Regions from separate parts of the Homo sapiens genome. Here all the other regions are linked to region 1. Evidence: fine-mapped expression QTL. A gene starts in region 1. Each other region holds a variant in brackets. All regions are shown on one strand. Distances are from middle to middle.

Region 1 (2,686 bases):
AGGAGAAACCGGTGATCCTGAAATTCTTTCCAATTAGGCCATTCTATTTTAATCAGTCCATTCTGGTGCCACTTGATAAAATATCTCCTTTCAATCTTTATGTAGCTCTACTGTGATGTTGTTGCACTTAACAGCAAAACAATCATTTATGAAATCTTAATGTAAGGCTTCTGCAAACCAGTATACCAGAAATGGAGAACCATAGTTCTGGACTCTGATTTTTCTATTAATAGTTGTCTTCATGAAAATACCGTGTATTCCAAACAATACCTTGCAAGGTAATTTTATATTTTAAGAGATCTGGTGCAGAGCATCGGAAAAAGAGTTGATAAAGCTATTATAGATAAAAAGCTGTGAACTGAAATTACGATTTGGGAATGAGACGAGAAGAGGGCTGAGACTGCTACTGCAAAACAACCCGGGGGGCGTGCGGATCAGAGCGAGATGTGGGCTGACGCAGAAATCAGCTCAAGATACAAATACGCCAAGAAAGGCTCGAAGCCGGCGGGAACCCTGACGCTTCGCATTTCTACCAACTCAGTTTAAGAAACCCCTAACAACGCAGATGTCATCGCTTCGTTAATTGGTGCCGACGATGAGCCACAGCGACCACGCTCAAACCGTTTCGACTGCAGCCAACCTAGATGTGCCATTTCCACCTAGTCTTCTGCCATCGCTATCTCCCCTATAACCTCAAATTCGTCCAAACTAAAATCTCGCTATGTTAGTGATAAGAAGTTCAGTGATGCAGCAGCCTTCTTCAGCGGTGAGCTCTTTCCTCACACATCTTTAAAAGTCCTTCTAATCCGTTGGTTTCTCGGGCACGCGGGCAGAAAACCGTGCTAACGGCCACAGAGGTTCAAGAGGTGCCAACGTGGCTATAACTGGAAAACTGGATCCGAAATCGACCAGTAAACTGGGTAGCTCGGTCTACGCCCCGCCCACCACCCTTGCTAGCCAATAGCCTTCACAACTCTTCTGCCACTCCCGCCCATTCCAGTGCTGTGCCGCTGCTTTTTCTTCCACTCGGATCTCTTGAGCGCCCTTAGCCCGCTGTATACGCGCCCCTCCTCGGCTTCAGTAGGCAAGAGGGCCATCTGCCCTTCTTTCCTGAAGGTAGAGGGGACAACACCAGCTACGACGGGGACTCCAGAAGTCCATCTCCCGAACAGCAGCGGGGCGAAAAGAAAGAAAAAGGGTTTCCGAAGACTCCTACTCACACCCACGCTTTCCCTTAACCCGGAAGTGATTTCCGCCCCTCCTCTCCCTCTTCGGTTGATACTGGAGGAGAAGGACGGCCAGGTCTGGCCCGGCATGCCCTGGGCTTCCGGTGACCTCTGGCCCTTTTCTGTCGTCCGCTCTCTCTGCCTAGCGTGCTCGCTCGCTCATTGCTTTCCTTCCCTCCCTCGGTCTTCCTTCGCACGCTGTTTGGTGATTGTGGCGCTCGCGACAGACAGGGAGGCGGTGGCAGAGGACACTTGTCATGGCCGCCTCTAAACCTGTGGAGGCAGCGGTGGTCGCAGCCGCTGTACCGAGCTCCGGGAGTGGGGTGGGCGGCGGCGGGACTGCGGGCCCGGGCACGGGGGGGCTGCCGCGATGGCAGCTGGCTCTGGCGGTCGGGGCACCCCTGCTGCTGGGCGCGGGTGCCATATACCTGTGGAGTCGGCAGCAACGGCGCCGGGAGGCCAGAGGCCGGGGCGACGCCAGCGGCCTGAAGCGCAACAGCGAACGGAAGACCCCGGAGGGCAGGGCCAGTCCGGCCCCGGGCAGCGGACACCCTGAAGGTCCCGGTGCTCACTTGGACATGGTGAGAAGCAGCCCCAGGCCGTAGAGGAGGAAACTGGCTCGTGCAGCTTTTCCTTGGCGGGTTGTGTCAGTGAGGGGGCTTCCCATCAGACGGAAGCTGCCAAGCGGCAGCACAACACTTGGGTTTAGGGAGACTCATTTCTGGCTGCCAGTGGAGGGCATAGAGTAGCTCGATGACAGGTTACTGGCATTCTTTGACAGTTTGCTTTTGGTTTCAGAAAAATCCTTTGCTTTTCTTCTCAGTGACACAGCATTTATCCCTAGTGTTGTAGATGGGAGTGGGGCATTTGCAAATGTGATGATTGTATTTAATAAGTGAAGGAAGCTAAATTCGATTAACAATTGGTACATCGTGATACGAACTGTTTCTGTGATTTCCAAAGCCTACAACCTAATCGCTAAGAGCCTTTTAATAATGAGCCACTCCCCCTTTTGGAGTGTGTTTTTGCTGGGGGTAAGTGGGCAACTACAGTGACGGTTAGTTGACAAAAGCAAAACAAAAACAAAAACGATTAGATGGCTTTCTACATAGAAAAAGAAAGACTACACAGGTTCTAAAGAGTGAAATGGTGTTCAGTGGCATTTGTTTTACAGCCTCTGAACTGTAAGCAGAACTGTCAAGCTCCCAAGGCTCGTCCTCTCTCAGCAACCCCGAAGCCCCCTTGGCTGCAAGCACTCAGCGCCCGTAACCTCTCCTGCCATGCCCCAGCCCCAAGGTGTCCTTTTGCACTCCGGACCCCTTGGCCTTTGTCAGAAAACGCTCTGCACTGCACTGTCCCCTCTTGCTGCACAAGAGTAGCGGCCACAGCAATGCTCACCAGGCTTGGTTGCACACAGCCCCCTGCCCCAGGTCCAGGCCTACACACACATACAAAAAAAA
Region 2 (2,686 bases), 460 kb after region 1:
GAAATTATACCCAATTCCATGCATATCTTTAAGAAAGACCCTGGGCTGAAGGGGCACAATCAAAATGTGTTTGTGAGTTGTGGGTGGAGGAGACTGAAACTAGGTGGTGTAAGAAATGAATAAAGAAACTGAGTGTTTCATTTGGAATAAAGAAGAATAGAGTCCTTTCGGTTAAAGGACTACACTGTGGCAAGAAGAGTAGCTTGGCTTGCTTTAGTTCTGGAGGCAGAACCAGGATACACGAACTAAAGTTCCTGGGAGCTGGATTTCAGCTCACAACAAGGAAGCACTTTTGGACACTCACAGGCATATAACAAGTGAGCAGGTGATGATGGAAAATACTAAGTGCCTGATACTATGGGTGATGGATGAGAGACTACTGCACCACCTTCTGAAGCTCTTATTTGATTTTCTCTCTGTGGCTTTGACTTTCTCTTAGGACTTAGAATCCTTGGGAATATGAACCTGAATCATACATCCCCACTTTCCAATCCCTTGTCTAAAGACTTGTCTATGCCCTACAAGGAAAAATATCACTAAGAAAATGTTTCAATGATTTTTACTGAAAATGGGAGAAAAAAGATAACGGAGGCCAATTACTAAATTAGGTTATCTTGTTTTCAATTGTCTTTTTTTAGCCATCAGATAGCTTTACTGCAGCTGGCTGAGTTTAGTGTCTTCAAATGTGGGTGAGTAGGGCAATAAAAGGAAACTTTTTTTTTTTGAAAGACCACATAAAATACCCAACAGGATTTTTTCCCCTAATCTGGCCATGTGAGCACAACCTGGCTGTTCTGCAACTGAGCGCTATTAACATCTATTTATAGCCACTATTTTCATAGATGAATCACATTTACCATAAGTCAGTTAATATTAAAGGGGCCAACCAGCTCTGCTGAGAACCCCATAATCTTAATACATCTCTTTCCATTCTTTCAGGGAACTAAATCTTAGCTTAAAGGTTCTGTGTAAAGATAGGGGGAAATGCAAGTGCAAATGTAAAGATAGCAGACAGTCTGCCCTCTAAACTCAGCAAAGTATGGGGTGTTAAATATATTCAAATTTAAAGCCTTGGATCACTCCCAGCTTTGTTCCTTGGCCATGAGTGTCGTACAGTTAGCACAGACTCACTCCGTGTTATGCAGTCTTCTTGCCATCAAAACAAACAATTTATGTCTAAAATTTCCCACTACACTAAGTTTAAATGACTGCCTTAATAAAATGTTACATGCTTAAAAACAGAACTAATGATGGTTAATGGTGCTGTCAAATTAAAAAATAGTGTAGTGCATACTCAGTTCATTTCATGCATGTGAGGGTGTCTGTGAGAGGGCTGGGGGTGAGGGATAGCAGATCAGGGTATTTATGATCGAAAGTTTACAAAATTCAGTGAAATTAAATGGAGATTTCCAGTAAGTTACGTGGATCTAACATTTCTTCCCCACCCAGCACGAGTGTGCATGCACGCGCGCGCGCGCGC[GCA/A]CACACACACACACACACACACACTTCCTGAGCCTTTTGCAGGCACCAGTGCTGCCCTGAAATTGATATTAATTTATTTGTCTTTGCTATCTCTTATGAGAGTCTCCACCTTAATTCACCTTTACCAACTCCCTTCCTACAGGTTTTCTGTTTTTTTCATTTACTTCAGGCTAAAATTCTTTAAGATAAATAAGATAAATGAACTGAAGCACTTAAAACAGTGCCTGGCATGTGGTAAGAGGTCTATACACAGCTACTTCAGTAGATTCTCAGTACCCTTTTTCTAATTTCTAGCCAGTGGTTTGCAAATGAATCATCTTTACCATGAGGCAGCTCCTATTCAGAGCCAACCAGCTCTGCTGAGGACTGCATGATTCAATCACTCAATAAATCCCTGCTGAGGTCCAACTCTGTAGGACATGGGGATACACACATTAACAACAGGGGCCCTGTGCTAACCAAATATGAATAATAAACCCATTAGCAAGTACCATTATCTCCATTTTACATTTAAAGGCTCACTGACGCCCAAGGCCACAGAGCTAACATGTTGGAGCTGTGATTTAAGACCAGTTCTATTTGATTCCACAATCTCATACTCTTTCTATTAAGACATGTCTCCTGCCACTTCAATATGACAGCAGTGGTTGAGAAAAGCACATGAAAATTTAAAAATACATAGTTTTTGCACATAAACAATATATGAAAACAGAACATCTTTATTGAATAGACTCAAAGGCTAGGGGTTTGTGAATTTATGTTACTCACATTTTTGTATAATTTTGGATACTCAGAATTCAACAAATTGGAGATTGGTCCACATATGAAAATAAGCTAGGCTGGGCATGGTGGCTCATACCTGTAATCCCAGCACTTTGGGAGGCTGAGGCGGGTGGATCACCTGTGGTCAGGAGTTCGAGACCAGCCTGGCCAACATGGTGAAACTCCATCTCTACTAAAAATACAAAAAAATTAGCCACATGATGGCAGGCGCCTGTAATCCCAGCTACTTGGGAGGCTGAGGCAGGAAAATTGCTTGAACTCTGGAGGCAGAGGTTGCAGTGACCCGAGATCACGCCACTGCACTCCAGCCTGAGTAACAAGAGCAAAACTCCGTCTCAAAAAAAGAAAAGAAAGAAAAGAAAATAAGCTAGTTAAAACAAAATTGCGTAGCACAATACTTGACATAGTAGGGCTTCATTTC
Region 3 (2,686 bases), 35 kb after region 1:
CTCCTGAAGTGCTGGGATTACAGGTGTGAGCCACTGCACCCAGCCTAAATTATTTCTTAATTGCTAATTTGTTAATGTGAATAAAATATTCTTGTACTAGAATAGGATAGGGTGGTAGTTCTTAATCTTTTTTGAGCGAAGCTGTGGATTCTTCTTAGAATAATGCACACAAAAACACTTTGCTTTTAATTCAAGGCTTTCATAGATCCTGGGTTAACTAAAGACCTCTGATAGGGTTTGATGGAATTTTGTTCACGTTAATTGAACTTTGAAAAAATCCATTCTGAACCTTACAATTAAATAAGTGAATTTGAATAAATGAAATTGCAGATTATCCTAGGATTTTGCAGATCTGCTAGCTGTTGGCCTAATGCCAGAACATGAACTCTTGAAAAAAGTTTTTTTTAAAAATAAGCCTATCACGTTGCCATATATTATAATGGGGGATTAAATATAGTCACCCTAGTGGTACCTCTTACTGGCATATAAAGTCTAACTGGCACATATGCCAATAAAATGTACCTTACTAACATGTATGCCAGTTAGACTCTGTATATGCAGGTATATATATATATAGTAGGGACTTAATATTCTTTGTAGGATTGCATATATATGTAGCTAATACTAGTTACTTAAAACAGTTGGTTCTTAGATAGCTGTGGATTTGACCAGAATCAGGCAGAGGCAATAAATCTGAGTATTTATTGAGTAGGTGTGAGGAACTCACATAGACTGCCTGAAGAGTAGAGATGCATGGGGTTGGGGATGTGCTGGTAAGAGATGAAACAGAAAGAGGTGGGCCCACATCAGTCTGTGAAGGTAAGGCCCTTGCATGTCATTAGTGTCCCGGTATTATGTCACTGCTTTCTAAAGGAGTCTCATGTTAACAGTAGAAACATGTAAAATTTAGGAACCAGACGGAATTGTGATTTTAAATAAGCCAATCAATTTCCCTAGTCTGACTGTTCTTATCAGTAAACACAGAATACAAGGGATATAATGTAAGCACATAGTATTTGTAATAGTAGTTGACATTCATTGAGTGCTTTCAATGTGGTAGGTACTCTTGTTTATTTTAAAAGAAGCATTTTACTAGAATCATAGTAGAAACTTAGTGGTCAGACTTCATGTAGCATCACTTACAACCTTCATTGAATATTGTGAAGAAACTTAGTGGTCAGACTTCATGTACCATCACTTACAACCTTCATTGAATATTGTGAAGTGCTTGTTGAATCTGAGACTTAAAAATTTTGTTCTTTTAGAGGAAACATGGAGAAAGCCATTGACATGTTCAACAAAGCTATTAACCTGGCCAAATCGGAAATGGAGATGGCCCATCTGTATTCACTTTGCGATGCCGCCCATGCCCAGACAGAAGTTGCAAAGAAATACGGATTAAAACCACCAACATTATAAAACAGGGGGAAAGCAGACTGACCCTCTTTTTAAAAGTTTACCCCCTCTTCAACTGAACCCTAAAGACACTGTCATGAACTGTGTTGAATGGTGGAAATCAGTATTTCTGTTTGTGGTGTTGTTATTTGTTACATCTGTTTCATGTCTAGGTGTTGTGGGTGTGGCTGTTGAAGGAAGTTTGCAGTCTTGCAGCTTTTATTCCCT[G/C]TGCAACAAAAGATTAGAACATGTTAAAGGGATTTTTAAATAAAGTTGCAAAGAGTACAAATGATAATTGGCCATGCAAATAAAAACTGATTTGTTGATTTTTTTTTTAAGGGGGGTTGGCAGTTGATTATGTTCTGGATGATTCCGTCTATATATGTGTGAATAATGTAAGTATTTTACAGCATGTTGATTTTTAAATTAACGTAGTAAATGCTGTAAAATAGATTTATATTCAGTTAACCGCTTTCAGTTGATTTTTTGAAAGAAACAAAGGTTAAATGGGGGATTAAAGTAAAATTGAGAGACCCTTTAAACCATTGTCAGCATGCACAATGCCTCTGATTCTGCAGTTTTAGAAACTTGGTGGCACTTATTAATCCTCTTGGCCCCTTTCCACTCTAATGGATAGTGTACATTCTTCTTAAAGTCCACAACAGCAGATTTTCTTGCAGTAAATTATGCAGATGCAAAATATTCTAATTGATATATGTGTTGGAAGACTGAGTATTGATGGGGGAGTGGACCAGACAAAGAGGTAAGATGAAACAGTAGTGTGTTTATAATTGTCTGTGACTATTTTCTATAATAATTAGTACTATTTAATGGTGAGCTTTTAAAAATGTAGGATAGAGGGTACAGTGGCACTGTATATACTATTTATAGTCTCAGCTACTAGGGAGGCTGAGGCAAGAGGCTTGAGACCAGGAGCTCGAGGCTGTAATGTGCCATGATGATTGCACCTGCGAATAGCCACTGCACTCCAGCCTGGGCAATATAGCAAGACCCCATCCTTTAAAAAATTTTAGAACTTTTTTAAAATCAAAGTGCAGATTGCTTGTATGTAAAACCCAAATAAAGGTAGAGTAAGTGTGATATATGGGAGTATTAAAATAGCTTAAAATTTCTCGTGAAGGACATGTGGCTAAAGGGTCAAAAAGGATGTAAGACTTGGAGCCAGAGCATAGTATTTCCTGAAATAACAAGTTTAGTGCTTTAACTATGGCTACATGTGCTTAAGGAATTTTGAGCCACTTATTTTTGAAGATGCTGAGGACATGTAGAG
Region 4 (2,686 bases), 78 kb before region 1:
TCGCCTAACCCAGGAAAAGCAAGAGGTTGGGGGATTTCCCTTTCCTAGCCAAGGGAAGCTGTGACAGACTGTATCTGGAGGAATGGTACACTGTCATCCAAATACTGCACTTTTCCCATGGTCTTAGCAACCTGCAAACCAGGAGATTCCCTCCAGTGCCTGGCTTAGCAGGTCCCACACCCACAGAGCCTTGCTTACTGCTAGCAAACCAGTCTGAGATTGACCTGCGACGCTGCAGCCTGGCCAGGGGTGTCTGCCATTGCTGAGGCTTGACTAGGTAAGCAAAGTGGCCGGTAAGTGCGAACTGGGTGGAGCCCACCGCAGCTCAGCAAGGCCTACCACCTCTTCTCTAGACTCCTCCTCTGTGGGCAGGGCATAGCTGAACAAAAGGCAGCAGACAACTTCTGCATATTTAACCATCCCTGTCTGACAGCTCTGAAGAGAGCAGTTGTTCTCCCAGCATGGCGTTTGAGCTCTGAGAACTGACAGACTGCCTCCTCAAGTGGGTCCCTGACCCCTGTGTAGCCTGACTGGGAGATACCTCCCAGTAGGGGCTGACAGACACCTCATAAAGGTGGGTGTGTCTCTAGGATGAAGCTTCCAGAGGAAGGATCAGGCAGCAATATTTGCTGTTTTACAGTATTTGCTGTTCTGCAGCTTCTGCTGGTGATACCCAGGCAAACAGGGTCTGGAGTGGACCTCCAGCAAACTCCAACTAACCTGCAGCTGAGGGATCTGACAATTAGAAGGAAAACTAACAAACAGAAAGGAATAGCATCAAAATCAACAAAAAGGACAGCCACACCAAAACCCCATCTGTAGGTCGACAACATCAAAGACCAAAGGTAGATTAAAACCACAAAGATGGGGAGAAACCAGAGCAGAAAAGCTGAAAATTCTAAAAACCAGAGCACCTCTTATCCTCCAAAGGATCGCAGCTCCCCACCAGCAATGGAACAAAGCTGGATGGAGAATGAATTTGACAAGTTGACAGAAGTAGGCTTCAGAAGGTCAGTAACAACAAATTTCTCCAAGTTAAAGGAGCATGTTCTAACCCATTGCAAGGAAGCTAAAAACCTTGATAAAAGGTTAGACGAATGGCTAACTAGAACACACAGTGTAGAGAAGAACTTAAATGACCTGATGGAGCTGAAAAACATGCCACGAGAACTTTGTGATGCATGCACAAGCTTCAATAGCCAATTTGATCATGTGGGAGAAAGGATAGCAGTGATTGAAGATGAAATTAATGCAACAAAGTGAGAAGACAAGATTAGAGAAAAAAGAGTAAAAAGAAACAAACAAAGCCTCTGAGAAATATGGGATTATGTAAAAAGACCAAATCTATGTTTGGTTGGTGTACCTGAAAGTGACGGGGAGAATGGAACCAAGTTGGAAAACACTCCTCAGGATATTATC[C/T]GGGAGAACTTCCCCAACCTAGCAAGGTAGGCCAACATTCAAATTTAGGAAATACAGAGAGCACTACAAAGATACGCTCTCGCTCTCGCTCTCCCTCTCCCTCTCCCTCTCCCTCTCCCTCTCCCTCTCCCCCCTCTCCCTCTCCCTCTCTTTCCACGGTCTCCCTCTCATGCCGAGCCGAAGCTGGACGGTGCTGCTGCCGTCTCGGCTCACTGCAACCTCCCTGCCTGATTCTCCGGCCTCAGCCTGCAGAGTGCCTGCGATTGCAGGCACGCGCCGCCACGCCTGACTGGTTTTCGTATTTTTTTGGTGGAGACGGGGTTTCGCTGTGTTGGCCAGGCTGGTCTCCAGCTCCTAACTGCGAATGATCCGCCAGCCTCGGCCTCCCGAGGTGCCGGGATTGCAGACAGAGTCTCGTTAACTCAGTGCTCAATGGTGCCCAGGCTGGAGTGCAGTGGCGTGATCTCGGCTACAACCTCCACCTCCCAGCCACCTGCCTTGGCCCCCCAAAGTGCCAAGATTGCAGCCTCTGCCCGGCCGCTACCCCGTCTGGGAAGTGAGGAGCGTCTCTGCCTGGCCGCCCATCGTCTGGGATGTGAGGAGCCCCTCGGCCTGGCTGCCCAGTCTGGAAAGTGAGGAGCATCTCTGCCTGGCCGCCATCCCACCTAGGAAGTGAGGAGCGCCTCTTCCCGGCCACCATCCCATCTAGGAAGTGAGGAGCGTCTCTGCCTGGCCACCCATCGTCTGGGATGTGAGGAGCCCCTCGGCCTGGCTGCCCAGTCTGGAAAGTGAGGAGCATCTCTGCCTGGCCGCCATCCCATCTAGGAAGTGAGGAGCGTCTCTGCCCGGCCGCCCATCGTCTGAGATGTGGGGAGCGCCTCTGCCCCACCGCCCGGTCTGGGAGGTGAGGAGCGTCTCTGCCCGGCCGCCCCGTCTGAGAAGTGAGGAGACCCTCCACCTGGCAACCGCCCCGTCTGAGAAGTGAGGAGCCCCTCCGCCTGGCAGCCACCCCGTCCGGAAGGGAGGTGGGGGTCAGCCCCCACCCGGCCAGCCACCCCGTCTGGGAGGTGAGGGGTGCCTCTGCCCGGCCGCCCCTACTGGGAAGTGAGGAGCCCCTCTGCCCGGCCAGCCGCCCAGTCTGGGAGGGAGGTGGGGGAGTCAGCCCCCCACCCGGCGAGCCTCCCCGTCCGGGAGGGAGGTGGGGGGTCAGCCCCCGACCCGGCCAGCCGCCCCATCCGGGAGGGAGGTGGGGGGGTCAGCCCCCCCA

Alleles and levels. Alleles are on the strand shown, and positions count from the first base shown. SD is a standard deviation of normalised expression in the study named. Not every link is listed here.
For the expression in monocytes after LPS of the gene that starts at base 1,344 in region 1, A is the low allele of the variant in region 2 and GCA is the other (small effect, 0.34 SD a copy in Quach 2016).
With allele T in place of C in region 4, the expression in subcutaneous fat of the gene that starts at base 1,344 in region 1 is higher (moderate effect, 0.51 SD a copy in TwinsUK).

What was found. PIP is the estimated chance that this variant, and not a neighbour inherited with it, causes the effect.
Region 2: its variant is fine-mapped to the expression of TOMM70 in monocytes after LPS (Quach 2016, PIP 0.95).
Region 3: its variant is fine-mapped to the expression of TOMM70 in thyroid (GTEx, PIP 0.95).
Region 4: its variant is fine-mapped to the expression of TOMM70 in subcutaneous fat (TwinsUK, PIP 0.95).

Annotation. Positions count from the first base shown.
Region 1 is chr3:100,399,747-100,402,432 of GRCh38, reverse strand. It overlaps TOMM70 (translocase of outer mitochondrial membrane 70), which reads left to right and starts at 1,344. Exons shown (of 12, transcript NM_014820.5): 1 at 1,344-1,807. The coding sequence starts at 1,484. It overlaps LNP1 (leukemia NUP98 fusion partner 1), which reads right to left and starts at 894. Exons shown (of 4, transcript NM_001085451.2): 1 at 1-894. RefSeq lists silencers at 876-955, 1,566-1,645 and enhancers at 1,016-1,105, 1,116-1,165, 1,216-1,325, 2,007-2,686.
Region 2 is chr3:99,936,871-99,939,556 of GRCh38, reverse strand. The region is part of intron 1 of CMSS1 (cms1 ribosomal small subunit homolog); the gene reads right to left. The region is part of intron 1 of FILIP1L (filamin A interacting protein 1 like); the gene reads left to right. The region is part of intron 1 of LOC105374010 (a long non-coding RNA gene); the gene reads right to left. Among named protein-coding and RNA genes, the nearest start is that of MIR3921, 26 kb to the left of the region's middle. The variant GCA/A (reference allele first, on the strand shown) is at 1,481.
Region 3 is chr3:100,364,297-100,366,982 of GRCh38, reverse strand. It overlaps TOMM70 (translocase of outer mitochondrial membrane 70), which reads left to right. Exons shown (of 12, transcript NM_014820.5): 12 at 1,266-2,686. The coding sequence ends at 1,419. Among named protein-coding and RNA genes, the nearest start is that of NIT2, 31 kb to the right of the region's middle. The variant G/C (reference allele first, on the strand shown) is at 1,624.
Region 4 is chr3:100,477,853-100,480,538 of GRCh38, reverse strand. No RefSeq gene overlaps it. Among named protein-coding and RNA genes, the nearest start is that of TMEM45A, 13 kb to the left of the region's middle. The variant C/T (reference allele first, on the strand shown) is at 1,420.